Linked DNA regions of Homo sapiens. The protein of the gene in region 3 interacts with the protein of the main gene of each other region in a biochemical or structural test. Each region holds a gene or a part of one and is shown on either strand. Other genes may lie near its edges.

What was found.
Region 1: the proteins of TLE1 (region 3) and RUNX1 interact in far-western blotting, tested with the Homo sapiens proteins (one study listed by BioGRID and IntAct).
Region 2: the proteins of TLE1 (region 3) and TLX1 form a complex in vitro, tested with the Homo sapiens proteins (one study listed by BioGRID).
Region 4: the proteins of TLE1 (region 3) and HES1 form a complex in vitro, tested with the Homo sapiens proteins (one study listed by BioGRID).

What each region holds. Positions count from the first base shown.
Region 1 is NC_000021.9:34,829,296-34,836,315, reverse strand, and holds part of RUNX1 (runt-related transcription factor 1), read left to right. Parts: exon of another isoform or gene 1-3; intron 4-1,714; coding exon 1,715-1,906; intron 1,907-7,020.
Region 2 is NC_000010.11:101,126,314-101,134,303, forward strand, and holds the start of TLX1 (T-cell leukemia homeobox protein 1), read left to right. Parts: upstream 1-4,986; 5' UTR 4,987-5,228; coding exon 5,229-5,796; intron 5,797-7,825; coding exon of another isoform or gene 7,826-7,861; coding exon 7,862-7,990. UniProt on the Homo sapiens protein: Controls the genesis of the spleen. Binds to the DNA sequence 5'-GGCGGTAAGTGG-3'.
Region 3 is NC_000009.12:81,679,536-81,686,555, reverse strand, and holds part of TLE1 (transducin-like enhancer protein 1), read left to right. Parts: intron 1-659; coding exon 660-723; intron 724-835; coding exon 836-880; intron 881-7,020. UniProt on the Homo sapiens protein: Transcriptional corepressor that binds to a number of transcription factors. Inhibits NF-kappa-B-regulated gene expression. Inhibits the transcriptional activation mediated by FOXA2, and by CTNNB1 and TCF family members in Wnt signaling.
Region 4 is NC_000003.12:194,131,502-194,139,159, reverse strand, and holds HES1 (transcription factor HES-1), read right to left. Parts: upstream 3,013-7,658; 5' UTR 2,780-3,012; coding exon 2,672-2,779; intron 2,544-2,671; coding exon 2,448-2,543; intron 2,200-2,447; coding exon 2,112-2,199; intron 1,478-2,111; coding exon 927-1,477; 3' UTR 428-926; downstream 1-427. UniProt on the Homo sapiens protein: Transcriptional repressor of genes that require a bHLH protein for their transcription. May act as a negative regulator of myogenesis by inhibiting the functions of MYOD1 and ASH1.

The DNA.
Region 1 (7,020 bases), on a different chromosome or scaffold from region 3:
CATGGCCTTTCATCCACAAAGCCGGTGCTTAAAATACGCAGCCAAGAACAGGCCTCCCACATGCATGCTGAGCCTGCGTGACTCAGGCTGTTTGCGTTCAAGTCTCCTGTTGTGGGCTGGAGCGCTGAATCAGAGTCCAGATTTGCCTTGGTGACACATGACAAGAGGGGCCATTGCATTTGAACTACATAAATATTATGCTTAAGTGTTTTTCCTCATTTTGGAGCCAAACAGGTCTCGTTAATGATAAAATCACTGCAATATAGTGGGCCCTTTTTTTCTGGTCTGGAATTTGAGACAATGTCAACTGTGCCAAGGGGCCTGGCAGCAGGAAGAAATGGCCAGCCATGGAGATTTGCAGCCATCATGCAAGTTATACCATTTAATTTTATAATTGTAGCCATTGGGAGCTGGACTACAGTGCACTTCTCGTGGTCTGCTCTTACCCCAGGCTGCGGGAGTGGAATCAAGGGGGCCTCTTTCTAGTCTAGGATTGGGTCAGGGCATGTGAAATAGCACTTTATGGGGGCAGCGGGCAGGCTGTTTCTCAGTCTGGCTTTGGGGACATTTGGCAATAGGGAACAGAGGTTGTGCAATCGATCAAGGACTCTTTATTGGAACCATAAGGCTGAGGAAGCAGCAGGAGGCCATTGTCTTTAAAAGAGAAATGAATGGCCCAGGCCTCCTGTGGCTACCTCCCTACCTTGGAGCCTCAGCTTTGCACGACAGGACTGGCTCTGGTTTAAGGACATTTTGAGAAAACCGTAGGCCCCAGTCCCCCATGAGTGGCCTCTGCTTGCTGCTTCCTGGTGACGGTTGTTTTGGTGAAGAGCATGATGAGGACACTTGCTATCTATATAGACACTGAGGGGCCCACCATCCCACCCTATATAGACACTGAGGGGCCCATCATCCCATCCCACCAGTCCTGAGCCCCCTGGGGAAGCTCACCAGATAGGCTGTAGCTACCTCTGGGCTCCAGTGGGCCTATTCTGCTGGGAATATTGGACAAGACACAGGCGAGGCCTTCCTGTCAACTCCTCCTTAGGGGTACATGGGGGAGTCGGCTTCAGGGAAGAAGGAATGCTTGTGAAAAGCCTGTGAGGAGAGGGAGAGGGAGAGGGGCTGAGGGGCTGAGGATGCCCTGCGTGTACCTGGAAATGGGACCTCCCCAGAGGCTGTGGGTTTGCAGCCACGCCTCATTTCCTCTTGGAAGGGGCCCTACCACTAAGCTGCGGGGCCCACTTTGCCGCCTCTAAAACGTGCCAGTGGCTGGGTTTGCAGTAAGGAACAGCCGTTCTGATGCCCCTGGGAGGCCACCTTTCCTGGCTGCCACAGCATAGCCCCTGGCATGTGGCCATGTGCCAACAATTAATGCGCCTCTTTCCCTCCCGGCATCACCACCACCGCCAAGTTCTGTATCTCAGTGAGTTGTGCCCATTGGAAGTGGGTGTAGAGGGTTGGGGAGGGTGCCAAGGCCCAGACTGGGGGAGCACTCTGTGGCCGAGGCGGTGAAAGGGGGCCCATTCTGCTGAGAGGACAGTGGCCCCAAATTCAGCTGGCATATCTCTAGCGAGTCTATGTTGGGGTGAGGGGAGAGAGAGGGGAAAGACAAGAAAAGCCCCAGTTTTAGGAAATCCACAATACTTTTTCTGATCTCTTCCCTCCCTCCTTCCCTCCCCCCATCCCCTCCCCTCCCTGCTCCCCACAATAGGACATCGGCAGAAACTAGATGATCAGACCAAGCCCGGGAGCTTGTCCTTTTCCGAGCGGCTCAGTGAACTGGAGCAGCTGCGGCGCACAGCCATGAGGGTCAGCCCACACCACCCAGCCCCCACGCCCAACCCTCGTGCCTCCCTGAACCACTCCACTGCCTTTAACCCTCAGCCTCAGAGTCAGATGCAGGGTAAGTACCAGATGGAGCCCACTGCCCGCCTCTCCTGCACCTGGGCCACCACCCACAACTGGCCCCCATGTGCACACACCTTCCCAGACCAACTGGGGTTTCCCCTTGATGCTCAGAGAAAGGCCTCGAACCAACAGCACCACCTGGGAGCTGTTGGAAATGCAGAGTCTTGGGCCCCACCCACCCCAGACCCACCGAGTCAGATCTGCATTGTAACCAGATCCCCACAAGGAAAAGCACTGCTACAGAGGATACGAGGAGCTCTGGGTATGGATATCCATATTGGATAGATAGCTCTCTTGAATTTTTTAAGAGTTAGCTTTGGCTATGCTATTTTTTTACCTACCCATTAGGCTTGAAGACACACACGCAGACACACACACACACACACGTCAAGCAAAGTGAAGATGGGATGTTTCAAGTTCTCGCTATTGCCAGATTATTTGTGGGTTTTGTATCTAGTGTTTTTTTATTATTAAGAAATAGTTGAAATGTATGGATGTCATCACATCAAGGGTGTTATTTGCAAATCAATAGAGAATGCAGGTCCCCCCAGCCCATGGGGCTAGCTGGCAATTACTAAAGCGCTGTAAGATGCAATAATTGCCTAAGGCCCACTGTGCCAAATTAGATAATACAAGAAGTTCATTTACACTGTAGACCAGTGACGTCAATGACTGTTTGCTCTGTGATACCGTTTCAAAAATCCAAAATGCAGACTTTTCTCTGTGCCATGCAGGATGCAGCTGTGTGTGATATGGTTTACAGTAATATTTCTTTCTCAAAGTAGCAGGCTTGTTAAGGAAAAGATAAGCAACACATCTGGGGAAAAGGGCAGGTGGCCAGCAATCGATGTGGTAGCTCTTTGCCCCTCTCGGACAGCAGGAATTAGCTTCCCCAGGCATTTTCTGTATGTGAGTTGTATTGTGGGATGTACAAATATCATCTGTTCCTTTGGGTTTCCAGGCCAGTAGCTCTCTATTTTGGGTTCAAACATGGGTTCTCAGGCCGGGCGCGGTGGCTCACACGTGTAATCCCAGCACTTTGGGAGGCCAAGGCGGGCGGATCACGAGGTCAGGAGATGGAGACCATCCTGGCTAACATGGTGAAACCCCAACTCTACTAAAAATACAAAAAATTAGGCAGGCATGGTGGCGGGTGCCTGTAGTCCCAGCTACTCAGGAGGCTGAGGCAGGAGAATGGTGTGAACCCGGGAGGTTGGAGGTTGCAGTAAGCCGAGATTGCACCACTGCACTCCAGCCTGGGCAACAGAGCGAGACTCCATCTCAAAAAACAAACAAACAAACAAACAAAAACATGGGTTCTCAAAAGGCATGCCCACTGTCTCCCATGGAGCTTGACAGCCCATGCCATTAGCTCTCACTGTTAGGTTTCTGGGGAAGGTTCTTCTACTTGATTGGAAAATTTCCAAATAAATCTTTCCAGAAGATACTATGCACACAGCTAAGTGGCCTGTCTGTGGAGTAACCCTTTTGTAAACAAACAGAAACCTAAAGCTTGATGTTTTGGGGGGCTGCCTGTCATCTATAGGTTCATTTAGGTGTATTTAGGAAGAGGATCCATGAAACCACTGGTTTCCTGTTACATAATAATCATTAATAATGATTTAAAATGTGTACATTGATTTTTTTTAAATTCCAAAATACAAGCGTATATGGTAAATTAAGTCAAATGGTATGTTCAGTGAGCGAGATGGGCTTGGGGCAAAACAATACTTTGCTTCCAAAGAGGATACAACTCTCAAGGAGATTCTTTCATCTTGCCTTTAAGGTCATTTAAACTAATTCACATAATCTTCAGAAAACTAATTCACATCATCTATTCATGTGTAAAATCAAAAGGAAGACTGTTTTCTTAGTCTCTCGTTGCCTAACTGGCCATTTATACTACTAGGTTGATTAAGGGATTTGCCTTTTTCTGCTGATATGGGAACAAAAAGTCTTAAGCATTTTTAAAGGCAATGGAAAATTCAGCCACATGGGGGAAAATTGATATTGTCACCATTGAGTTGCTCTGTTTCTTGGTGAAGAGTGAATCTAATCTGATTTCCTTCTTCATCAGATATGCCTCTTTAACAACAAAAACAAAAAAATGGGGGGAAGTTGCACATTGAGTTCTCATCCTCTGAAGCTCCTGGGCAAAAGCATTATTGTGGACCGTGTGATGGGCATTCGTCAGCTCTTTGGAGACCTATATGCTTAGTAGAGTATCAGGTTTAACACTAAGCATCGCCCCTTTTTTGTTCCTCTTGAAAACTTTTACTTCTGCAACATTTAAGAAATCATAACTCGCTTTTAGAGTTCCTACGGGCTTGGTTGCTACTCTAAAGAATGTGTGAACTATATTGCTGGTGTTCTTTCTTTCCAAAATATGAATTTGATATTCAGTACTTCACTTGTAAAATTTTAGGAACAACTTTTAAAAAATAAGTATCCAGAATATTTTCATGTGAAACAACTTTTCCTTTTCCTTTTGTTCTTTCTTTCCTATAAGAAAACGCTGTTTTACGCTAATCATGTTTTGAGTAGACCCTTGGGCTTTTTCTCTTGAAATTGGAAAGTTAACAGGTATAATATGCAAGTCTTGTTCAGCCAAGACCTTCAGTTTGTTCTTGACAGTAGGAAAATGCTTATTTTCCAGGCTCAGCCCTGAAATTTCTATGTTATATTTACGAAGATACTTTAAGAAATACAGCATGTGTTTCTGGCTTTCTTTGAAATGGCAGTGGTAGTTTTCAGAAAAATATCCAATTTGTCAGAGTAGTTCCACAGTGGTGCTGTCCAGATGCATGAATGTTTTTCAGCTTTACAGAAATGTCAGTAACCGGGGGTTTGGCGAGCTTGCCGGGATTTATAGAAAGGCTCAGGAACCCTACCTTGCTAGGACTTTGTCAGAAGGGTTATGCCAGCTCCTCTGACTCTGTCAGCAAGAAAATACTGATATAGAATAGCACCAATACTTACCTAGAATCACATGTGCTGGAGGGTCACTCAAAATAGACATCTCAAATTATCTGAAGCACGGTACAGATTGAGAGGGGGCAAGTTGTCATGCCACTAAACCACTGTTTATTTGTTGGGGTCTTAACTATTAAAGGGCTGAGGTTTATTTCAACTTCCTATTTTACCAGGTCTTAAACTGGTAAAGCCATTTTGTCATGAAATAGAATAGAAAGCCATTTTGTCATGAGTAGACCCTTGGGCTACACGTTTCTCCCAGTCAGGACACCATCATTAACTTCTACGATCGAGTCTTAGAATTCTTTTTTAATTTATTTCAAAAGATAGAACAGGGCAGATTCTAGAGCTAGTGGTACCGATGCCTGTTCAGTCACAACTCCCACCTAGAGATGGGTTTGGGCAACCCGAGTGAGTGATTTTAAAATTTCACCCCTGATTGACCAAATATGATGTATCACATTTAAGGTGTCGTAATTTCCTCCTTTCTGGGAATATGAGGATGGAGTAATAGATGCTGGTACAGAAAACTGAAACCTAGATAAACTAGGAAGCCCATTTTGTTGTTCTTCTGCATGCTGGTTGTCATAAGCATGTAGGAAGAAGATTTAACTCTTTAACTGGACCAGTTGTGAGCTATTTTGACGTGGGTCAGACATTTGTACATATTATTCCATTCCCTCAACAATCCTGTGGTATCATTTATAGACAGAGAAATCGAAATTCAGAGGTTAAAAATTGCCCAGTATCTCAAAGATTGTAAGTGATGAACTTGGACGCAAACCCAGACCTTCCTTGCTACAAAGCCAGTGCAAGTGGGATGGCCGTTCCCTGGGCGTGCACTCTTGGGTCAAGGATCGATTTACTACAGGGCTGACCAGTGTCGAGAAGAATCCCAATCACCAAAGGAGGGATGGAAAAAGTGTTGGGCTATCCACTCACTTGGCATTCTTGTATTGAACATGTTCTATTATAATTAGATGTTGATAATAAGAAGAATTTTGGGGCCAGGCTGTGTGGTGGGCACCTTAATAAACTGTCTCCTTTGGTACATGTGCATTTGTTTATAAAGTTTGGGAGAAAAGAAAACTCAGAATAATGAATCTCTAAATAAGAGTGAAAGAGGGGGTATATGAGCAGGGAGAAGGCTTACCAGCCACTCTGTTTACTTTATTGGGGCCATTGCCTTCCTACTTTTGAAGTTCATTGGGACCAAGTGCTTATCATCCAAACCCAGTCAACATCTAATCCACTTTTATGAGTATGCGTGCCTCACTTTGAGTGTTCCATATGGCCAAGAGGGGTCCCTGACCTCTCAAATCATCTCTTGATTTTTAGTATTCCAAGTAACTTCTGTCTTGCTAATTATTTTCCCCCAAAATTAAAGTTACTTAGGAAGGACTATATTCTGGTGCTGCTGTCTGCAAAACTCTGAGATACTGAAATGACCCTGTTTCTCAGTTGTATAGAGTTATTTAAGTCCGTCTGATTCTCTCTTTATCATCTGGATAGACAAAAGGAAGAAAACCTTTCCACCTTCCTGTAGGAGAAGGAGATAAATCCTCTTTCCAGCCTTGGAGGTAAAATATCCAACTGCATTGCATTGCTTTCCTTTCTCTCTCCCTCTCCTTCCCTCTCTTCCTTACTCTTCTAGCAATTTGAAGTTTGAAAACAAAGGGAGTAGGGACTATTTGATTACCTTGAAAGTGGAGGCTACAATCAAACACCAGAAATCCTCATATGTGAATCTATAAATGGTCATTTAATGGTTACACAAAGTAACATATTCAGAATGTGAGAAATTAATTTATATAATAGGCTATAAACATGACAGGTGAATGATTTCATTTAAAAATAGCTTTTAACAAGGTGTAGTAGGGTATGAGAGCCTTTCCAGGTCTATAGCATTATAATCTTACCCCGACAACAAGCCTGAATCAGGTGTTCACAGGAATAAATAAAAATAATTAAAGGAAAGAAGGGAGAGAGAGAGAAGAAATGAAAACCAGTGGGATGACTGCAGAGATTCACTGCAGGGCTTGATCTTAGTGATGAAATATTTCTTCTGTAGACTGCATATGTTCTGAACTTTCCCCTTATGCTTGTAAATATGTAGGCCAGCACACCCATGCACTA
Region 2 (7,990 bases), on a different chromosome or scaffold from region 3:
ACAGGCACTCACTACAGAGGAACAGTTGTAAACACATACTCATCTTGTTGCAGAAAACACATTCACTTGCATTCTCACTGACACATACATCCTCACATGACAAAATCCAGTTGTATAAAATACCCAGACTCCCTTCTTTTCCTCCAACACTCTTCCCAACATGCATTTTGCTTGCAGTTGTATCCCAACAGCCTAACACAGTGCCTGATACATACTAGATGCTCTATAATTATTCATTGAATACATTGTTAAAATTATTTCTTAAAGACATGCCCAGGACATCTGCACAGCCCTCTCAATCCTGACTGTCACACAGGCTTTCCCATCCAGCTTTCCCCTCGTGGATGCACGGCCCCACAAACACAAAGTAATTAAGTTTCCACACATATCCGTAAGCTAAAGGACAACCCCTGGCCCGGGGGTCTCTTTCAGAGCGGGGAAGAGGAGGAGATTGTGTGGGATCCAAAGGGGCCTCCCCCTGGGCTGAGCCCGTCCTTTCCTCCTCCCCCAGCCCGGGCCCTGGCCCCAGCTGCTCTTCTTTTAATTGGAGGCACTTTTTTATTCTGCAGGCCAGGGGGAGCCGGTGCTTGGGGGGAGGGGTGTTACCAGGTGGCCTCAGAACCAGAGAGAAGGATCTGCAACTCACCTAGGTTCCTGCAAGATAGTCCTGTGAGGCAAGAGCCAAGTTTAGGCTTAAGGAAGCAGCTTGTAGTGAGTGGAGTCAAGAAAGCAGTGTTTGCGTCTGGTCTGCCCCTTTCCAGCTTTCAGTGCCTTGGTTTTCTCATCTGTAAAATGGGGATAACAAAAACCACATCACAGGATTAAAGATGAGTGGAGAGATCATTCTGGTGGCTCACACATGGCAGTTGCTCTGTGAGTCCTGCTTTCTTCCCCTCCCTCCTCGTTCCTATCAGGGCTGTTTTGCAAGGCATGCAAAAGCACGGTGGAAACACAGAAGCTGCAGCGAATATAAACTTGTGTGAGTCTCCTCTCCTGTTTCAGAAAACTTCCCAACCTTGCAACACCGTGCTCAGGTAACACTGCTCTCAGGAGAAGGGGTGGGCGCCAGAGCCCAGCAAATCCTGACCCTCCAGTCTCATCTTTCTAGGTAAGGAAGGGACAGAGAGGGTAGTCTTGGCCCTCAGTAAATACCCTATTGGAAGACAAAGGCTGGGATTAAGCTGACTCACAGAATCCCAGCACCTCATTGAGGGTAAAAGTTGGGAGTATCCCCAATTGGGATAAAAGTTGACTCTGATAAACAAAAAAGGTAGGAGGGGAAAAAGGAAGAAATCCGTCAAGGAAGCGGCTGTGATCGCAGGGGAAAGTCAGTATATCCCTGGGCTGCTGGATTTTAATGAGAAGAGCTTGACAGTCTTAGTGGGCCATGTACAAGGGAGTGGTGACTCTGCCAACCTTAAGCTGGGCCAGGAATGGTAAAGTCTCCTCCCAGGTACCCTGGACAACTGATACCAGATCTGAGGAGTTCAAGAGGTAGATCAGGCAAATGCCAAAAGGGTTGGAAGGCCATCTGAGCTGGAGATGTGCACCTGGAAAGATAGGTGGTTTATTTTATTTTATTTTATTTTATTTTATTTAGTTTTATAAATTTTACCTTCAACCAACCCACACCAAAAGATGGGGTTTTAACTGCAGCAGGTAAAACTGTGGTGAGACTAAAAGGAGTGAGGCCACTAGGACCCAGCCTCAAAAAAAGCTGCAGTACCCTTCCCCATAGTTTTCAGCCTCAAACAAGGAAAATAGCTCAGATTTTGAGATTCCAGATCAATCTTCTCTGTCTATGGAACTTGGAGCAAGTTTGTTCTCTTTACTGAGTCTCAGTTTTCATTTTCTTTTTAGAGATGGGGCATTGCTATGTTGCCCAGGCTAGAGGTGCAATTATAGCACATCTCAGGCTCAAATTCCTGGCCCCAAGTGATCCTCTAGCCTCACCCTGCAGAGCTGCTAGAACTACAGGCACGGGCCACTGCACCCAGCCATTTTTTTCTTTTTAAAAATGAGATATAATTCATGTGCTATAATATTCAGCCCCTTTAAAATGTATAATTCGGTGGGTTTTAATATTTTTAAAAGTTATGTAACCATCACCACTATCTCATTCCAGAATGTTTTCATCACTCCAAAAGGAATTCTGTATCCATTAGCAGTCAATTTCCATTCCCTGCTGCCCCCAGTTCCTGAAAACCACTAATCTATTCTCTGCCTCTGTGGATTTGCCTATTTTGGACATTTCATAAAAGTGGAATCATACAATATGTGGCCTTTGTGCTTGGCTTCTTTCACTTAGCAGAATAGTCTCCTAGGTTCATCCATGTTATAGCATGAACCAGCATTTCCCTTCTTTTCCTTTTTATGGCTAAATAATATTCCATGTGTGGATATAACAAATTTTGTTTATCTATTCATCAGTTGGTGGACATCTGAGTTGTTTCCCCTTTTGGGCTATCATGAATAATACTGCCATGAACATTCATTCAATTCTCTCAATTATAAAAAATTGGGACATTTCTATTAACTTGCCTGGGTTGTTATAAGTCTTAAATGAGATAAGCATGATGTGGTACCTGGCACAAAACTGTCTTTCAATAAATAATTTATTTCTGCTTTAGTTCCCTCAAGATAAGAGGCAGGAAGAGATTCATTCGGGTTCAGACAACTTCCAAAGTAAGTTATGGAACTCCTTGGGAAGGGGTAGAGTACCTGGATTGGGTAAGTGGGAAGAAGAGAACTGGCGAGGGAGCGGAGCCCTCTCATGTTTCTGCTTAGTGTTTTTTTTTGTTTGTTTGTTTTTTGAGATGGAGTCTTGCACTGTTGCCCAGGCTGGAGTGCAGTGGCGCGATCTCAGCTTACTGCAAGCTCTGCCTCCTGGGTTCACGCCATTCTCCTGCCTCAGCTTCCTGAGTAGCTGGGACTACAGGTGCCCACCACCACGCCTGGCTAATTTTTTGTACTTTTGGTAGAGACGGGGTTTCACCGTGTTAGCCAGGATGGTCTCAATCTCCTGACCTCGTGATCTGCCCGCCTTGGCCTCCCAAAGTGCTGGGATTACAGGTGTGAGCCACCATGCCCAGCCTTCTGCTTAGTGTTTACAAACAACTACCAATTTCACATTTGGCTTTGTCTTGAGTGGGCCTTTGTCCACCTGGCTAGAGCTCAGACAAGGTTTTCCCCACAGATACAAACTTCCAACCAGCACGTAGGTTTCCAGGCTAACCCACAAAAGCAAGTTGAGTCTAGCTCCTCCATATTGATCCACACCAATCATAGCTATTCTGAAATGTACTTTCCTCACATCTGTAAAATAGGGAGAATACTCATCTCGAAGGATTGGTGTAGAGTTTATATTGTTCTCCATAATACTAACATCTGTCTTGTTGTATTTGCTTCTTTGCTTATTGTCTGACCCCCTCTATAGAATGTAAGCTTCATGAGGTCAGGACCTTTGTTTTGTTCACTGCTATGTCCCCCATGCCTAGAACAGTGCCTGACACATAGTGAGTACAGTACTCAATAAATATTATTGAATAAAGAGATACATTCTTTGTTATTCACCCAAGATGACCATATTTTGTTGTTTGGGGCTGTATTCTTCAGGAGAGAACAGAAATGAATAAGCCACTCTCTGCCTCCAAGAAGATCTCTTCAAGTGGAGGTGACAGACATGCCCAAAGCAAATAGATTGCAATAAGACTTGATGGGAGAGAATGTGAGTCTTCACATCCTAGCATCTTTCCAGATAGAGACAGGGCCTACCCAAAAGTCTAATCTGAAACTGAACTGAAATAGAACAGAAATAGATCCCAAGTGATGGAACCTGTGCCTTTCCCAAAGCTTGGCTTCTAAAAGGTAGCAAACATTTTCTACTGGAGAGGGGAAAGACAGGAAGAAGAAAAAGGGAGTTTCCTCCTTTTCTCTTGGGCTCTCAGCCAGACAGCCACTGGCAAAACGTTGGAAAGGCCTAAATTTGTCCTGGATGCACTTCCCTGATCCTAGTCCCACCAATCCCAGCCCCCACGGCCTTAAGCCCCTATGGCTCCCTCCCAAGATTCCAAACGTAAGAAAAGAACACACACCACAGTCCAAAGGCTTCTTGTCTGGAATAGCCAACCCTGGGGTAATTGTTAGGTGGAATGCAATCTGGTTGAATTCATTCAAACACTGTAGGAATTGCCTCTTTCGAACCCTGTAGGATTTTACTTCTTGACGCATCTGTTTATTTAAAACCAAAGGGGTATGTTGAGGCATGGGCACCCTGGCAGCAGACCCCAAACCAACCCTCTTGACTTGTGCCTGCCTTTCAGGATATGTTCCCTTCCTGAATTTGTCTAAGAAGGCTGAGTTGGGGGGTGGTTGCTGATTTTTATAACATATAGCCAGTTGTTCATAGGCCTGTGTTTTAAAGAAGGGCAAGCCTGAACTCACCGTCCTGCCTCAGGGCCTGGGCTCCATACCTGGGGAGTAGACAGTCTTCTACTTTCTAAAAAGCTGGACTTGAAATTTGGAGTAAATCTCCTGGTTGAGTGACAGGTGTTTCGCAGCTGAGCCCTTGAGGAGATTCTCCAGTTGGGCAGAGACATCCCTTCCTCAGACGCCTTGTGGGCTGGACTCCTTTGGCCCAGTTCAAAGTGAGGGGAGGGCTCCCAACAGGCCGGGAAGACAGTTGACTTCACCCTCCTTGGGTTTGTCTGTCTGTCCGTCTCTGGGAATGGTCGCTTCCTGTTTTCCCTTTTCCTTTTAAGCCTCGCCTTGTTCCCCTCTTCTCTCTCTTCATGAACTACTCCGAGTCTTGGTCTCCGTCCCTCTATCTCTGGCTCCTGCATCTGTCTCGGCTTCTGGCCTTCCTCTCCCCCTCCCCTCCCCTCCCTCGCGCTGTCATTCACCCCGCTCCTCTCCGCGCACAGCCAATGGAGAGACCCAGTCGAAACCGCGAAGCTCTCTTGCACCGGGCTTTTTCGCCTGGTGATTGATGTCCCAGAGTCAACAGCGAGCGAGCAGCCGGAGCGGGGAAGCAGAAGCCAGAGAGGGGAAGAATACGGCGCCCCCTCTCTCCCTCCCCTCCCCCTTCTACTTTAGCCTTTCTGCGCACTTCGCTTCCAAGTCTCCGCGCAGCCAGGAGCCGCTGTTGCCTCCCAGCCCCTGCTAGCTGCCCCCCGAGCCGAGCGCAGCGAGCGCCGCCGCCCGGGCCCCCCGGTGGGGCCAGGGCCAGCATGGAGCACCTGGGTCCGCACCACCTCCACCCGGGTCACGCAGAGCCCATTAGCTTCGGCATCGACCAGATCCTCAACAGCCCGGACCAGGGTGGCTGCATGGGACCCGCCTCGCGCCTCCAGGACGGAGAATACGGCCTTGGCTGCTTGGTCGGAGGCGCCTACACTTACGGCGGCGGGGGCTCCGCGGCCGCGACGGGGGCTGGAGGAGCGGGGGCCTATGGTACTGGAGGTCCCGGCGGCCCCGGAGGCCCGGCAGGCGGCGGCGGCGCCTGCAGCATGGGTCCTCTGACCGGCTCCTACAACGTGAACATGGCCTTGGCAGGCGGCCCCGGTCCTGGCGGCGGCGGCGGCAGCAGCGGCGGTGCCGGGGCACTCAGCGCTGCGGGGGTAATCCGGGTGCCGGCACACAGGCCGCTCGCCGGAGCCGTGGCCCACCCCCAGCCCCTGGCCACCGGCTTGCCCACCGTGCCCTCTGTGCCTGCCATGCCGGGCGTCAACAACCTCACTGGCCTCACCTTCCCCTGGATGGAGAGTAACCGCAGATACACAAAGGACAGGTTCACAGGTGAGTCCGGCCCGCGCGCTCCCCGCCTGGCCGCGGCCCGGGCTCCGTGCTACCCCTGCCCCGCCGGGTGGCTCCCCAAAGCCGGTTCTGCGCTCCAGGTCGCCCAGCTCTTCTTGGTGCTTCCCCCAAGTTGAGCCGCCCGCCCGATTCTATAACGCAGACTCGCCATGCTTGAAGAGTTCTCTCAGCCTGGACCCCTCTCTGTCTCCCGAAGGACCCCTGCTCGGAGGAGCTCTCCCTGGTCCCCTCTCCGGATCCACTAGCCGGGTCAGGCAGAGAGAAGGAGGCCATAGATTCAGGACCACCTTCTGCAGCTACTCTTGGCCTGGGAATCTTAGAGAAAGGGGTGCAACGTGAACAGTTTCTTCCGTCCTGGCTGCTGTTCTAGGACCCAGGAAGCGAGCCCCAGGATCAGACACAAGAAAAGAACAGGTTCCCCCACCTCCAGTCCCCTACACACATGCACTTCGCGCCCCTAGCTCCGGTGCCCGTGGTGCTGCGGGGCCAGTGGGGGCTCTGAGCCCCGGTAAATCAGCAGAACCAGTGGCCTTTTTTTTTTTTTCCGGAGAGCAGGCTTCATCTGGGAGGATGGCAGCGGGGCTTAGCCGCCCAGGACAGCTAGCTTTTCATTTTCGTTCTCTCCCGGCTGGGTGTCCTACCCCGGGCCCAGCCCTGTTATCTTGGGCACGAACAATGCACCGGTAGGCTGGTGATCGGTGGCGGGAAGACTACTCCCGGGACATTGGGTACTAAGTGGTGGCCGCTGCCGCCTTCTCTGCTGCCCGCTCCCGCCTTCCTCTGCTGGCCCTGGCTCCCTCTGCTCCCGTTTCCACTCTGGGCACTCAACTCTCCCTCTGGCGTGGATCCCTTCCCCCGTTCTCACTTTCTGCTCCCCTTAGGGTTCCCTGGATCCTAGACCACGATCCTTCCGTCCGGGCTGGGAAGCAGCCACAAATTGAGCCCAGGTTAGCCAGCCGATCTTAGAGAGAGGAGGCAGGAGGCACTGGCTGCTGCTGGCAGAGATGGGGCCTCCTGGGGGTCCCCCGGTTCAAGGGCCCAACAGTGGAAGGGGGGTTTACATAACTACTTGGGAGAAGCTGCTGAGAGCTAGATACTGGGCCAGGAGATTCCAAAGCACCCCTGGCTTCCTGCTTCTGTTCCAGGCAGCAGCACAGCCAGGGAAACTGCTTCTGCAGCTTCTTACCAGACTCTGGGGCCACGGCAGAAGTGGTGTGGAGGCTGGTGTCCAGAGGAAGAACAGTTGCTTGGGTCTAGGCCTCAGGAAGGGCCCTCCCTAGAGGGGTCCCAGTGCCCCCAACCTAAGTTTTCTCTGGCCTGGGGCAGCAGGGCCTGGTGCCCATCCCATTCCCCACCCAGGCCAGGCCAGTCTTGAAGGGCCCTGCTGGAAACCCAGCCGGGAGTCCACTAATCCTGGGCCTCTGGTGAAAGGTACTCGGTTTAGGGCCTACCGCGGGGCCCTAATACTGTGTCAGGCATGAAGGCGGTTTCAGCGAGTGTATGGCTGTGGCCTTGTTTTGCTCTGTGTCCTGTGTGCTTGTCCCGTGCCTGTGCTTGTCTGGTCCTGTTTGGGTGTATAGATCTGTGAGTTTGCCCCCGTTGTACGTTGTGTTGGTGTGTGCTGCTGTGGATGGAGGCTCAGGTCGGGTTCCAGAGTCAGGCTCGGCCTCTTACTCTGAGCCTGAAGGCCTGGGGCTGACTGAGGGGAGGGGAGCGTGACCATTAGCTCGCCTTAGACTGCCCCTGGAGGAGAGGCGGCAGGGAGGTGGTTGGGCTCGCGGGAGCCCGGGGCCAGGGAGGCCTCCGTGGTAGCGGCGACGGCGGCGTCGGACTGGCGGGCAGGAGGAGGCCGTTTCCCGCCGTGGGCTTGTCGCTGAGGGCTAACGGGAGGATCTCGGCCCTGCTCGTGGGGGTTCAGCTGCTGCGCTCGCTGACTCGCGGGGTGTTGGGCCTGGGACGCTTCCTGACGCTCTGCTGCTTGCCTCTGCCGTCTGTCTGTCTCCCGCTCCAGTGGCCCTCTCACCCTTCACTGTAACACGCCGTATAGGTCACCCCTATCAGAACCGGACGCCCCCCAAGAAGAAGAAGCCGCGCACGTCCTTCACACGCCTGCAGATCTGCGAGCTGGAGAAGCGCTTCCACCGCCAGAAGTACCTGGCCTCGGCCGAGCGCGCCG
Region 3 (7,020 bases):
ATGAGGCGAAGTGGCTTGGGTGTGAATTTTCTTACTTTGTCAGGGGCTTTCTCATTATTGACCTTTTGTCTACTTGTAGATAATATCTCTGCAGCTTGAGGCATACTTGCACACACCGTGTTTACCCAGCAGGGAGAACTTCAACCCACTTTATTGCAGTAGCTACTTGACATATTTTGGCAGGGATTTAAAAACCAAAGGTTTTGAAAGGGACCAGCAATTGTAGGAGTAACTTAACAGATAGGATTTTCAAACCTAGAGACCGTTTGAGTTGGCAAAGATGGCACAGCCTATGCCTAAGAGTGAAGATTGTGCAAGGGCCGGATTTTGGTGGAGTACAGAGAAACAAACTGATGCAGGAAGGTAGGGAGCAGATGACCATGAGGAGGAATCAGTTAGAGGTTCTGACAGATTTTTTTCATTCTTGTCATCTAACCAGATAGGCACCAAGAAGAATGGTAGCTGAATGGACACCTTGTATTGTTCACATTATTCCTTTTCCCTATTAAATGCAAGGACAAAGCTTTTGGGTGTTTACCTAGATAGTTTATGGCTTTTCCAAATTGGTCTGTGTTTTTACTTGAAGTGCAAATATGTGAGGCAGATGTTAAAACAAGTGACATAATGTTTACATTAAGTTGCCTGTTTTGTTTTCCTAGCCTTAAATTGGAATGTGAGAAACTGGCAAGTGAAAAGACAGAAATGCAGAGGCACTATGTGATGGTAGGTATCAAAGATTGGACTTTTTCCTTTTTCATATGATATTAGCAAACGTGTTAGCAGAGTGTAAAAAACATGAGTTAATGAAATGCTTGATTCTTTTTTCTCTTTACAGTATTATGAAATGTCATATGGATTAAACATTGAAATGCACAAACAGGTAAGCTTTAGTTGAACTTCAAGCTGAAATGAGACATCAGTTCATATGATTTAATAATACTGGCTTTGTTCTCAGTAGTGGGCTCTAGGGGTGGGGGTTTGTATGCTATTTTTCTGCCTTGGTTTCCTGTCCTGTGGATTGATGGTAGTATTCTGCATCAAGGGTTGCTTCTTGATAATTACAAGTGTTTAAATGACTAGGAGAGGGAGAGGTGTTTTGGAAATATAAACTAGCCTCTTTATTGACAGATAGGAATTAAGACTTGAGTTTACTTTTTCACCTGTATAGATTTATCCTCTTGAAAGGGCTGGGTATCTTCTACAGTTGCTGAAGTTTAGAATAGTTAATGTTTTTGTGCTGTTTTGCAAGGAAGTGTGGACCTGTTGGGGGGAAAGAAGGGTATTCAGGAGTTTTTTTTAATCGTGGTAATCAAGGTATATGACTATCTGTGGAGTATTCTTTATGCTTTGGGGCTGCATGAAGCAATAGTCAGGATTAGTGGCTTATTAGCAAACAAATTTTTGAAAAATTTCTCAGTTGTTGCAGGTGTGGATGTGAAAAAAGCATCTTTTTATGGCCAGAGCATATGTTGGGAGTTGCTTCAGTCCTAGTGGTTTTTAAAGCATGAAAAGATTAGTGACTGGAAAGCTCTAGCAATGACTATGAGTTTGCAAGTTCCCATAAAATTCACACTTATGGCTACTATAATGGTGTATAAAAAGAGTATTGAGCTGGAACAAGGCACTAAGGACCTCATAAGAGAAGAAAAGCTAAATGATTGCTCAGCCCAAAGGACCCTCGATTGAGTAGTCATTGTCTGCCAAAGAAAGCATTAATGGCAGGGTGTAAGTATTCTGGAGATACGCTGACATTCACTTTTTCATCAAGACGCTGGTACAATAAGTCTTTTAGAAATCGATTGCCTCTTAAAAAATTATCATCAGATGAAGTTGCACAGTTGGACACATTTCAAAGTGCAACAATACAATTCTTACTTGATGTATATGTGCTATTTCATCTCAAACCCTTGTTTCATTAAATTAAAGAGCATGGCTGACCGGCTGGGGCACAGTGGAGAAATTGATTAGTTCAGCCTTCAGATCTTCCTTATATTCAAAGACTTTCATTAAGCAAGTGTGTTTCAGAGTTGAATTCTGCTTTTGTAACTCCGCACTCTTTGATTTTTAATTCATCATAGATTTCATAATGTTAAGTTATCGTGTACATTAGATCTGTTCTCAGATTTGTGTTTGGAAAGAGATTGTGATTTTCAGGGCCTTTTATTAATAATGTAATTGGGCCTTTAAAAATGCAGATTTTACTATGATTTACAAAGTTGGTAGCCTACTTTATGTTGGGTTTGTGCCTTTGTTTTTGTGTGTTTCTCAGTGGCTAGTGCCTTATTCAGGCACTTGTAACTTCTTGATAGTAAATGGGCTAGAAGATCTGTGGCTAACATCTATCGTCATTTAAGTGAATTATGCAAATAAACTTGGCCTAGGCGGTTTAATCTTTTTTTTTTTTTTTAATTTACTCTGAAGGGCACTTTTTTTTGGATAACAGATATTATGGAAGAGTAAGAGGAGACTGAGCTTTTTCTTAAACCCATAAACTCAAAGGATTTAATAACCTCATTGACTCTTTTACAAGGGAACACCACCTCAGTGTGATGCTATATGCTGGTGCTGGGTTTATTGGAGGAGCTAAAAGAGGTGTGTAATTCTTCTGGGTTCCTGTAGGTTATGTGGCGGGATGACCTCTTCTTTATCATGTAGGGAGAAGGGGTGAAGTGGGTCAGAAGCACCATGGTGTGAGAATAGTTTTCTAATGAGTTTCTATACAGAGTGAGGCATTTGTGGCTATATACTGTCTGTCCGTGAGCCTGTATGCATTAATAATATGCTGTGTATAATTGGCTTAGCAATTTGAAAAACGTGAAAAGCTGAGAGACACCATGTTCTTCATAGTAGGGTACTGAGCCTCCTGAAATTTAGTTGATATTGGAAATGCTGACAGACCCTTAACTAGAGTGCTGTGCAAAGTAGTGCTATAATTCAGTTTAAAGTGGACTTACATTTGAAAAACATCCTTCTGAATGTCACACATTAATAATAAGTTCTGAGGAGGCATTTGGTGCAGCTAGTAATCATAATTCTTATTAAAACTGGTGACGTCTGGCCCCCAGGGTGTAGCCAAGCTCAAATTGATGCTTTTTGCCGCCTGATCACCAGCATGGCCTAAGTGCTCATTATATTGTAGAGAGGGCCTTTGGAGCTCTCATTAGATTTGACAGGAATTCTCTCTAGGGGGAAACTGGGCATTAGCGAGACTCCTGACAGGCTGAAATTATTCCTGCTTTATGGCTTATAACCAAATGCTAGCAAGGCATCATCAGGGGACACAAAAAATTGTCATTTTTGACAACATCTTTGTTACTAAAAAAAAAAAAAAAATGCAGTGATGGGGAAACTTTCCGTACAGAGAGCTTTAATGCTGTTAAGATTTGTCTCCAGTGTGACGACCGCTCTCCCTTCCCACCTTTCAACGGGTTTGTCGGAGTGAGTTCTAGAGATTTCAGTGTCAAATCTCACTGCTGACTTTCCTGTCTGGAAGTTTTAAAGTGAAAGTGCATCCAAATCAAGAATGGTATAATTGTGGTTTCCTTTCCTGGTGTGGTGCCCACAGCCCGTGTTTAGGTTGTGTCAACACTTCCTGATAAGCCTTGCCTTTACTTTCTCTGCTCCCGTTTGTGGCGGGTTACCGAAAAGGCAATGAAACAGGAATGGTAATAGATACTTAAGTCTTTCATGGTAGCACTAAGAATATTTTTTTCTTGGAGCCCTTTATAGATCCCTGTCTGCCCATCTTTATCTGTGTGGATGGTAAACTCTAGATATCTCTATACAGTAGAGGTAGACAATGTCTCATGGAAAATTGAGGCAGTTCTGATACCATCAGAGTGTTAGGGTGCATTAAAAAACAGCAAGTTGATGTGAGCCTGGTGGTTTGCCTAGCTGTGCCTAGTGTGTGTGGTGGCGTGATCTTTAAATGTTTTTGTCTGTCATATGGTTTGATATTACCTCATTTGATATTTTTGGGAACAAGATGTACTGTAAATGCACACATAAACCTTATTTTAGCCCACTCATGTTATCTTTTCAGCATGCTGATGAAGCCATGCTATAAATTGTCATTGGTGGCTTTAATTTGCACAGTAATGAACAGTTTTCAATGTGATTTGTCTTCTGTGACCTCCATAGGCATCCTCCAGAGTAGATTGGGTAGGTGTTTTGCTCTGCCTACAGCTGTGTGCACGTGTTCAGAGTCTGGGACTTGCTCAAGGCCACGCATCTATTGAAGCTTGAGTTGGGTTGCCTCCTCCAGGGTTGTCTGTGCTGCTGCTGCTGCTTTTTTTTTTTTTTTGAGATGGAATCTCGCTTTGTTCCCCAGGCTGGAGTGCAGTGGTCGATCTCTGCTTACTGCAGCCTTTGCCTCCTGGGTTCAAGCAATTCTCCTGCCTCAGCCTCCGGAGTAGCTGGGATTACAGGTGTCCGCCACCATGCCCGGCTAACTTTTTTTTTCTTTTTTTTGTAGTAGAGAGAGGGTTTCACCCATGTTCGCAGGCTGGTTTCGAACTCCTGACCTCAAGTGATCCACCCACCTTGGCCTCCCAAAGTGCTAGGATTACAGGCATGAGCTACCACACCCGGCCTGTCTGTGCTTCTTCCTATCCCCTCATGCTGCCATCAGGAAGATGAGGTGGACCATGTCTCCCTAGTGCCTGCCTCTTCAGTTCTGACTCTTTGTGCTGATGAACTTCATGATTTGTAAGACATGTCAGGACTGAATGTATGTTCTAAAAGTTAGGAGAATCAGCAGTGCCGCTGACTGGTCTTTCTGGGGAGAGGAGGGTCACAGGCCATGGGTAGATAAAACTACTGAGCAGTACTGTCCTCAGGTTAAAGTATGTTTAAGAAGAAACAAGTCAGGAATCCTGGTGGAGACCCAGTGATGGGGAGGGAGTTTGATCAGTCACTTTGTGCCTGTGTTCTGCTGAAGAATGGGCAGAGTGAGAGCACTGGGCTCTCCAGGATGGTGAAGAATTTTTTTTCTTTTTTTTTTTTGCGCGACGGAATCTCGTTCCGTCACCCAGGCTGGAGTGTGGTGGCACAGTCTCGGCTCACTGCAACCTCCGCCTCCCAGGTTCAAGCGATTCTCCTGCCTCAGCCTCCTCAGTAGTTGGGATTACAGGAGTCCACCACCATGCCTGGCTAATTTTTTATTTTTAGTAGAGATGGGGTTTCACTATATTGGCTAGGCTGGTCTCGAACTCCTGACCTCAAGTGATTCCCCCCGCCTCGGCTTCGCAAAGTGCTGGGATTACAGGCATAAACCACTGTGCCCGGCCGATGGTGAAGCATTTAAAAATAAATGAAAAGACTAGCTCTGAAAATCTGAAAGGAAGGATGATATATTCTGCAATCCTGGTTGGGAAAGGGAAAGAGCTCCATGTGATATTTCAGCAAGCAACATCTCAGGCCATGTAAATTTTGGAGTGAAACTGCTTTTACAGTTTTGATGTGTGCTTTAAAATTTCTCTTAGAAAAATGCGTTGTTCTTTAGTGGGTTTTTAAAAAAGTATTTAGATGGGACTGTTAGGGACTCACCTGTGGGATATTTCCTTAGATGTGATTCTTTTACTCTTTTGCAAATTTTACCTTAGTGTTTTTTTTGTTTTTTTTTTTTAACCCTGTGTGTTTTTGTCTACAGTTTCTCACTTTGAGATTTTTTTTCCCCCTAAGTCAACATCTCACACAGGGAAATGACTAGCTAGAGTATAGGCACTTAGAGTTAAGCTCCAGCAGGTGTTAATAATCTTGTCATACAAAGAGGGTAGCTGTCATCAAGATTGGAGTGGTCCTCAACTTCATTAGCCAGGCCTGTTCTTTGCAAGCATAAGTTAAAAGAGAGAAAGCTCTCTGCATTTAGAGCCTAGATTCCGAGGTGCAAGATTAGCCTTTGTTTCTTATCAGCAAGCAGGACTGATCTCTCACCTCTCAGTCACCTTCCCCACCCTTCAGCAGTGGGCCAGTGGCTGGTTTTTGTCCTGGACTTGCACTGGAGTAAGGCAAGGGAGTCCCTGGGCATGGATTTTAAGAAAATCACAAAACATAGTTATCATGATCAATATTTTGAAAATTCAAACGGAATGCCCCCAAAATCTTCAAGGAACAACATGTCCAAATTTTGTATTAGGGCAGGATCCAACAGGGGGAGTTGGGAATAGGGTGAGGACAGGAGGTAGAGTCAGGCCATTGCAGGGCCACAGCACCTCCCTTGCCTCCCCCTCTTTCTGCCTTTGGTTACCTGTCCTGTGGGGAGTGGCCATGAACTATAGGCTCTGACTTGGTTCCGTTGTAGTTCATTGAAGTCATTTAATTGGGGATTTCCATTCGGGACTGGGCAAGTCATGAACACGTTCCCTGGCTTCAGTTCCCCTCTCTGTATAATGAGGGTTAGACTAGACAAAAGTCTGTTTGTTCCCTCGCATGGTGGGAGCCATCCCAGCATACACCCGCAGAACCCAGCACCTCGTGCGTGCAAATTGAGGAGCGTCCTTCGCCAGAGGACTTAAGATGTTCTCCCAAATAGTGTTTATTAAGAAACAGAAAGAAAATCTGTTTCTTTAGTAAATATTTAAATAAATCATCTTGAGTGGTAGTTAAACTAAAAATATATTCAGTTACTGGCTCATGGAACCATTTTAAGTTTCCATGGATCTGAGTCTTTGCTGTTTTATTATTAAACCTTTTGTGGTCTCCAGAAGTGGATTAAAGGGGAGGAAACTGAGAAACTTACTGGCTTTCCTCAAAGCTTTGATTGATTTCGTTTCCTACCCTCTCCCCTCCCCATTGCTTATTGTTGCCTCTGATTTTTAAAAATGGAAATTCTCACAACTAGTACCTTTACTACAGGGTATTTAGTATAGTGGTTTTTAAGTAAATTTTAGACAGCTGTTTCTGTCGGTGGGCTTATTTGACAAGAATAGGCATCTGTACCTTCAAAATACTCCTCACCAGAGGATTGTTCTGTGAATACGGTGTGATGTTTTAAGTGGAACTAGGATGCGCAGGTGTGGG
Region 4 (7,658 bases), on a different chromosome or scaffold from region 3:
TCAGCTTGCTTTAAGAGGGTGCGGAGAGGAAACTTTTGGGTGCTAGGGAACGTCTTATTTGAACCAAAGGATTGGCTAATTAATGAAGACCCCAAGTCTTGAAGGAGGCGCAGCAGTTGGAAGTGTTTTTGCTTTGGATGCTGGTGAGCTACCCTGAGAGGAGAGCTGCAGGAACCACCCTTAACGTGCAATGGGCAATAGGATTGGATCCATTAGCTTCGTGAATTTAGTCCTGTTCAATCTTCCTCAGGAGGAGCTAGAAGAACAAGGGCTGCAGACTTACCCGACTGCAACTTAAAAACATTTTTTTTGGAAATCCTTTAAGAGACTGACCACAAGTTTATCAGGGAAGCCTTACCAGATGGCTGCTTGTAAAGTAAATGGAATTTAGTCTTTTTAGTTCATGGAGGATTGGTGAAAAGTTTGATGGATTTTTACAAATGTTCTTTTAATAACAAAAGAGTCAATTCCTGAATTACCAATTACATGTAATTCAAATTCCACCAAAAGCCTTTTTACATATTCTGGAAGAATCAGTTCGAAGACATAAAAGCCTTTACTTTTTTCTTTTATTATATTTTCTCAAATAAACTTCCCCAAAGGAAGATATTTTAAGAGCATTTTCAAACATCTTTGGCATCACATAAAAAAGAAATCTCGTGTAAAAAACGAAATGTCATCTGAGCTTTTATAATACAAAGGCGCAATCCAATATGAACATATAAAATATATACAAATATAGTGCATGGTCAGTCACTTAATACAGCTCTCTCTACAAAAAGTAACTTCTTAGAAATTAAAAAAACACAAAGTAACCACTTAATCAAAAAAGTCCTCTTCTCTCCCAGTATTCAAGTTCCTGTTTAGAGTCCGGAGGGAAGAGAGGTGGGTTGGGGAGTTTAGGAGGAGGGGTGGCCTGAGCCCCCTCAGTTCCGCCACGGCCTCCACATGGAGTCCGCCGTAAGCGAGGGGCCGCTGGAAGGTGACACTGCGTTGGGGCCCACGGAGGTGCCGCTGTTGCTGGTGTAGACGGGGATGACAGGGCCGCTGTGCGCGAAGGCCCCGTTGGGAATGAGGAAAGCAAACTGGCCATCGGGAGCCGGTACCACCTGGAAGCCTCCAAACACCTTAGCCGCCTCTCCAGCCTGGCTGCCCAGCTTGCAGGGGGCGCCGCCGGGAGGGGGCGCCGCGCCCCCGGGGATGGGCACGAGTGGCGGCGGCGGCGCGAACGGCGCGTGCTGGGGGCCGCCGGGTCCCGGTGGGGGCGGTGGCGGCGCCTGCAAGGCGGGGTGCGGCTGCCCGGGGTAGGTCATGGCATTGATCTGGGTCATGCAGTTGGCCAGGTGGCCGAGCAGCCGAGTGCGCACCTCGGTATTAACGCCCTCGCACGTGGACAGGAAGCGGGTCACCTCGTTCATGCACTCGCTGAAGCCGGCTCGGTACTTCCCCAGCACACTTGGGTCTGTGCTCAGCGCAGCTGCGGGCCAGAAAGAGACAGACGGGTCACCGAACGGCCCTGGCCCCGTGGCCACTGCCTCCGCCCTGGGAGGTCCCTGTGGCGCGCCTCCCTGACCATGCGCCCGTGAAACTGCCTCCGGCAGGGAGGGTGAGATGGGTTTAGAAAAAACCAGCCACCTCTCCACACTAGCGTTGCTGCCAAAAGCCGAGCCACTCCTTCCCGATTCCCTGTAGCTGCATTTAAACCTATCTCAGCCCCAGATCTGTCACCCCCACCCCCGCGCGCGATGTGACCTTGGACAATGCCTCCCAATCCATCATCCAAGCCTCATTTCCCCTTCTGCAACGGGAAGGAGTGCTAAACCAGTGACCCCCAGGCTCCACGCAGTTCCAAACCGCCACAGTCCTAAGTCCTTTCGCCCCTACCCGGCGCCCGCCACCCTCGCGGCTGCAACCTCTTTCCCTCCCTTTCCGGAACAGTAACAACTTGGAGTTGTGGCTATAAATAAGCCCCAGACCGTGGGAACGCAAGAGTGAGCCAAGGCAGTAAAATGTAGCTGAATGCCTCTCACAACCACGGGCGGAAGTCTGGAAGAAATCACCGCGAGGCGAGCGGGACGCCCGCACAGGGGGACGCGGCGAGCCGCCCTCACCCGTCATCTGCGCCCGCTGCAGGTTCCGGAGGTGCTTCACTGTCATTTCCAGAATGTCCGCCTTCTCCAGCTTGGAATGCCGCGAGCTCTGCATAGAGTAGGCAAGAAAGGAAAGTGAGCCCCGTGTCAGCTGCTTCAGAGTGCTGGGGGTCCCTCCTCCCGGCCACGGAGCGCAAGCATTATCTCTGGACCCCAGCGAATAAGGCCGGGCCCTCCCGCCTGGGAGAACGCAGTACCAGCGAGTGCCAGACCCCGCAGGGCGGGGGGTTTCACTCTTAGTAGCTGAGAAAGTGTTTGTTTTTTAATTAAAAGAGCGAGCAGCATTTCCCCACTTACATCTTTCTTCAGAGCATCCAAAATCAGTGTTTTCAGCTGGCTCAGACTTTCATTTATTCTTGCTCTTCGTCTTTTCTCCATAATAGGCTTTGATGACTGCAAATAAAAAAAAGAGTTCTGTGTTCCCATGGAATCTGCCATCCCGGGGTTTCAAGACAGAAAGAAGCCCCCCAACCCCTACTTAATTTTGAGGGGCTGCAAAGAGATACAGGTACCGCCCTTACCTTTCTGTGCTCAGATGCTGTCTTTGGTTTATCCGGTGTCGTGTTGACACTGGCTGGGGTAGCAGCCACCGGGGACGAGGAATTTTTCTCCATTATATCAGCTGGCATTTTCCTTTTTTTTTTTTTTTTATCTCTAGAGAATTTTATTTTTGGAGTTCTTCACGAAAAAGAATTTTTTGTTTGTGTCTCTTTTACTTGAGACTTTCACAAAACTACTGAGCAAGTGCTGAGGGTTTATTATATTTTGTGGCTACTTGGTGATCAGTAGCGCTGTTCCAGGACCAAGGAGAGAGGTAGACGGGGGATTCCGCTGTTATCAGCACCAGCTCCGGATCCTGTGTGATCCCTAGGCCCTGGCGGCCTCTATATATATCTGGGACTGCACGCGAACGGCTCGTGTGAAACTTCCCAAACTTTCTTTCCCACAGTAACTTTCAGCCAATGGGAGGAGGAGACACGCGGCACCGCTCGTGGACCGCGCCCCCCCATTGGCCGCCAGGCACAAGGTCTGGCGGCCAATGGCGCGCGCCTGAGCCCAGGGCACCGGAGGCTACAACGTCAATCAAAAGGATTTTAACCCTTTGCTACTCTCCCTCTGGGCTTTGGTTTAGAGATTTTTTTTTTCTTTCCGCTTTGGTCTTGATCTTGTCTATTTCTTTTGGAGCCAGGGTCTTTGCTCTTTATGCCCTCTCTCATATGTAACAGAGCTGCTTTGACTGTAGTAAGTTCATTTGAAACATATTTTTTTTAAAGGTATAAACAATAAAGAAAAAAACAGCAGTGGTTAAAAGGGGGCGGGGGGAGGGGGGGACGGGTGTAAGAATGTGAGTTACCGACACATCTAAAGTTCCCGCTCAGACTTTACATTCAGGAGGGTGAAAGTAGATGGTAAAGGAAAAGGGCCAAAAAAATTTTCCTGTTTCCATGCAGAAAAAGGAAAAATTGCCTTCTACCTCACAAATGCAGGTTTTTCGGAGCAAGGTAGTTCTTGAATCCCACCCCCACCCCGTCTTTCAGAAATTCCTCGTTTGGATTTGGGGCCTTAGACCCCGGGCTTCCCCAGGAAACAATCAGAATAATTTCCAACTGGGTGGAAGGAAACGGTATTTCAAATGAAAAAATGAACAAGGGGGGCTCCGAGGGCAATGACTCAGGGACTCGCGCCCTCCTTCACCACCCTTTCCCTTTTCATCCGTAGGCTTTAGGTTCTGCGGCGCGTTGAGGTGGCGGGCAAGGAAGCAGCCTCTCCCTCCTCGCCCCGCGGGCGGCCTCGGCCCCCGGCGCCCGCGGGCCCTTTAAGAGCTACACCAGCCGAGCTGCAGTTTGACATCAGCCGGCCGGCGTGGGCGCGCCTGGAGCCGGAGCACGTGCCAGGATGTTTTATTGCCGCCGCGGCTGCGGCCGGGCCGGGAGGATGTGTGTGTGCGTGCGTGTGTGAGTGAGTGTGTGTGCGCGCGCCCCGGGGGCAGGGAGGCGGGGGGCGGCGACGGGCGGCGGAGAGCGGGGGCCGGTTCCTGGTCCCCGGGAGAAGCCAAGAAGGTAAATAGCAGCTGCTGTGCTCGAGCCTGGGAAAACCCCGCCCCCTGCGCCTGGCCCGGGCTCATTGGCGCGCGCTGCGTGTGGGGGGTGTGTGTGTGTGTGTGTCCGGGGCCCCCTCCTCCGGCCCCGCCGGGCCAGGAATCCGAGGGGGCGGCGGGCTGGGAGCCGAGCCCCGGCGCTTACCCTCTCTCCCCACCCCCGCCTCCCCAGGCCAAGGTCAGCTCTTCCCGGCGGGGAGCGCACACCCGGGGTGGAGAGTGGGGAATTCTTCCAACCCCCGCCTCCCCACCCTCACTTTCGGGCTTGGGGTTTTCACTCGGCCGAAAGCCGCATTCGCAACAGCCCGGGGGCGAGGTGGGGGCCTCCAAGTTTGCTCCTCGCCCCCGCCCTCTCCCCGCGGGGCCCTGGGCGCCCGCCGCGGTCACGGGATGCCTGACCGCACTTAGGAAGCGGCCGGGTCAGCCTCCTGCCTCCGCTCGGCGACTGCGGTTAAAGCGGCTTCGCGCCGCCCGCCCCTTCCCCGGGTCCCGGGCGGCCGGGCCGCTCCCCCTCACTACGCCCGGGAGGCCGCCGGCGGGCGCCCGGGAGGAGGCGGGCGGCGCGGGCGGCTGCGTGCTGCCTGCTGGCCGGGCCGCGCGCCGGGAGGAGTCGCCGCCGCCGCCGCCGGGTGCCACGTGGCGGGCGCCGGGCCGGGAGCGCCAGGGCTCTGGCGGCGGCCTCCCTGGGGGATTTGCCGAGCCGGGCGGGCGGCGCGCACTGCCTGGGCCGGCCGGCCGCCTCCTCCGCCTCCCTCCCGCCTGCCCGGGTCGCCGGCCCCCGTGCCCCCACCCCCCCTCCGCCCTTCCCGCCGCCTGGGAGCTCGGCTCGCGGCTCCGGGCAGCCCGGGAGCCCAGCGTCTTGTTTGATGTGGCCTCCCGCCCCCTCAGCCCTTCCCGCGTCCCGGAGGCCTGGCGCACGGTTCTCAGACACTTCATTCCTTCCGGCCTCCCAGCTCCCCACTGAGATAACGTTGTCAATGATTTCGCCAGATCTCGTCCCGGATGAGATTCAGTGGTTCCTGACTCTGGGTGACCTTGGGCAAGCCCCCCTCTCTCTTTCATTGTGGAACACACGCGCAGTGTCAGACACTGTGTTAAACCCTGGGATTTCCACGGTGAGAGATACAGTGGCGGCCTGCTAGAAGTTGACAGTAAACTGCGGGGGCAGACAGACGCTGATTTTCTGATTGATGACTGGACATTCCTTTATTTTTCCTTTCTTTTCTGAGTTAGGTGGTGGCTTGAGAGATCAGGAGGACAGAAACAAAATATGAAACCATACTTGTATGGATAACAGTATTGCTGGTCTACCTGGGTTTACAGCAGTGAGTAAGACCGTTATTGCTCTCTGGAAGCTAACAGTCTAGAGATACATATAAACGTGTACAGCTGACATCTACGGATGGCCCAGTAAATTCCTCTGGGAAGTCGTAGGTTCAAGAGAGACGTATGTCTGGATAGAGGTAAAATGCTATGGAGTTTCAGGAGAATTAAGTTACTTTTAAGTTGGGGTACCTTGGAAAACTTCCTGGAGGGATTGGCCTGTGTACCTTGAAAAATAGGTAGGATTGGGGCATTGGGAATGTGCTTAGTCGTGGGCTGGAGAGGATGCAGGTACCCATGGTATTAAAGGCCAAGATCCTGGAACTTGAAGACTTTATTCAGGGAACATGGTCTGGAGCCTAGGGAATGTGAGGGACTGGAAGAGGCAGCTTGAGGCCATGTCACAAGCTCCTTAAACATCTTGCTGAAGGACTTTGGACCTTATCTTTAGACAGTGGAGAGCCATGAAACATTCTTGAGCAAAGAAGAGGCATCAGGGTTTCCCTTTAGAAAGATGGCTCTGGCAAAAGTGGGAGAGTGGATTGCAGGGCTTGGAGGCAGAAAGGGCAGTTAGGCAGTTCAAGCCAGTGAAGAAGGTTCCTAGGAGGCAGGTGCAGACTGACTCCCAGAGGCATCTGTCTACATCCAGCTCCTCTGGACATTGACCGCACGCTCTTGGGAACTGAGTTCAACTCAAACCTGCCTACCCTTTAATGCAGTGTTCCCAACCCCCAACCAGGAACTCAGGAACTCAGATTTAATTCCTGAGTCTAACTAAGGAATCATGGCTCTGACCGTATTAACCTAAGCCTCATTTCCACCTTCCAGGATAGTCCTCCAGTCTGCAACCAAACATTTCCCTCATCGAAGGCTTTGGTTTACTCACTGTTGCCCCTAAGGCTACTCTGAGATTTTTTTTAAAAAATGTTTTCTTACACTGCAGAGTGAGCTGTGCCCTGTCATGTTCTGAAGAAATGATGAACAATGCCTCCTTTGTTGACCTGCAACCTGGGCCAAAGGGGAAGGAATTTTCTTTCTTATTTTAAACAGATGGAAAAGTGGTGATGACAGAAAATTGTCTGTTGCTTTTGGAAAACGTAGGGTTTTCCTGTGTGGTGAAAATCCTCTTGGTGAAAGGTGATGAGCCTATGAAGTTACCCTCCTTTCTGCCATGGCCCCAATAAGCTTTGCAAGCTTCTTAAAATGCTTCTACTGAGCGTCTGACTTTTTAAAAACTTCCCAAATACACTGACCCAGATTCTTCTGAGGAACTAAACCCTTCCCGGGGAAGCATGTTAACCCTTTCCAGGTTCCCCCCAAATCTTTCAGAACCAGTGCCTGCTCTGCTAGGCTCTGCCAGGCTCTGCCATGACATTGACTGCTGTCTGCTGGTCGGCCCTCATTAACTACTGGGTTATGCCACTCCCTGCCCATTCTAAGAGACTTTTTCATCTGATTCTGTTCCCCACTCTTATTTGGTGCCCTGAAGGTGCATGGGGAATGGAATATGGTCAAGTTAGGGTCTCACTGAAGGGGCTAAAGCAGCCTCGTGGGTCAAATAGTTAATCAGCAACTCGTTTATTGCCACTTTGGGAGTGCTTGGACTGGTGGAATGGGCAAGTAACTTTCACACACACGTTTTTAGATAGGGGGACAGAGGCTCAAGTAACAAAAAAAATTATGAATTTGTGTCTGGACCAAAAATAAATAAATAATAAATAAAAATAAATTCCAGGAACTCTCTGGCTTTCCACTCTAACCATTCAAGAAGAGTTTCTTGCAGATGGGCTCACAGATGACTTTTCAGTTTCCTTATGCTAGGCAGTGAAAATAGGACCAACGTTGTCCTCTCCCCACCCCTTCTCAAATGGGACAGTAAGCTCCTAAACTCAGGAAGAAGCATCTGCATCTGGAAGAATGCTCTTAGATAGATAGAAACAGCCTTTATTTTTCAGTCATCCTTTTCCCCCGACTCCCAAAGCAAAGAGAAAATGGAGCCCAGTTCATCAGTGGAGGTCACTTCTTTGATCCCCCTGTGACACCAGCATCGTTCTGAATCGTTCTCACCGTGTCATGCCCAATACATA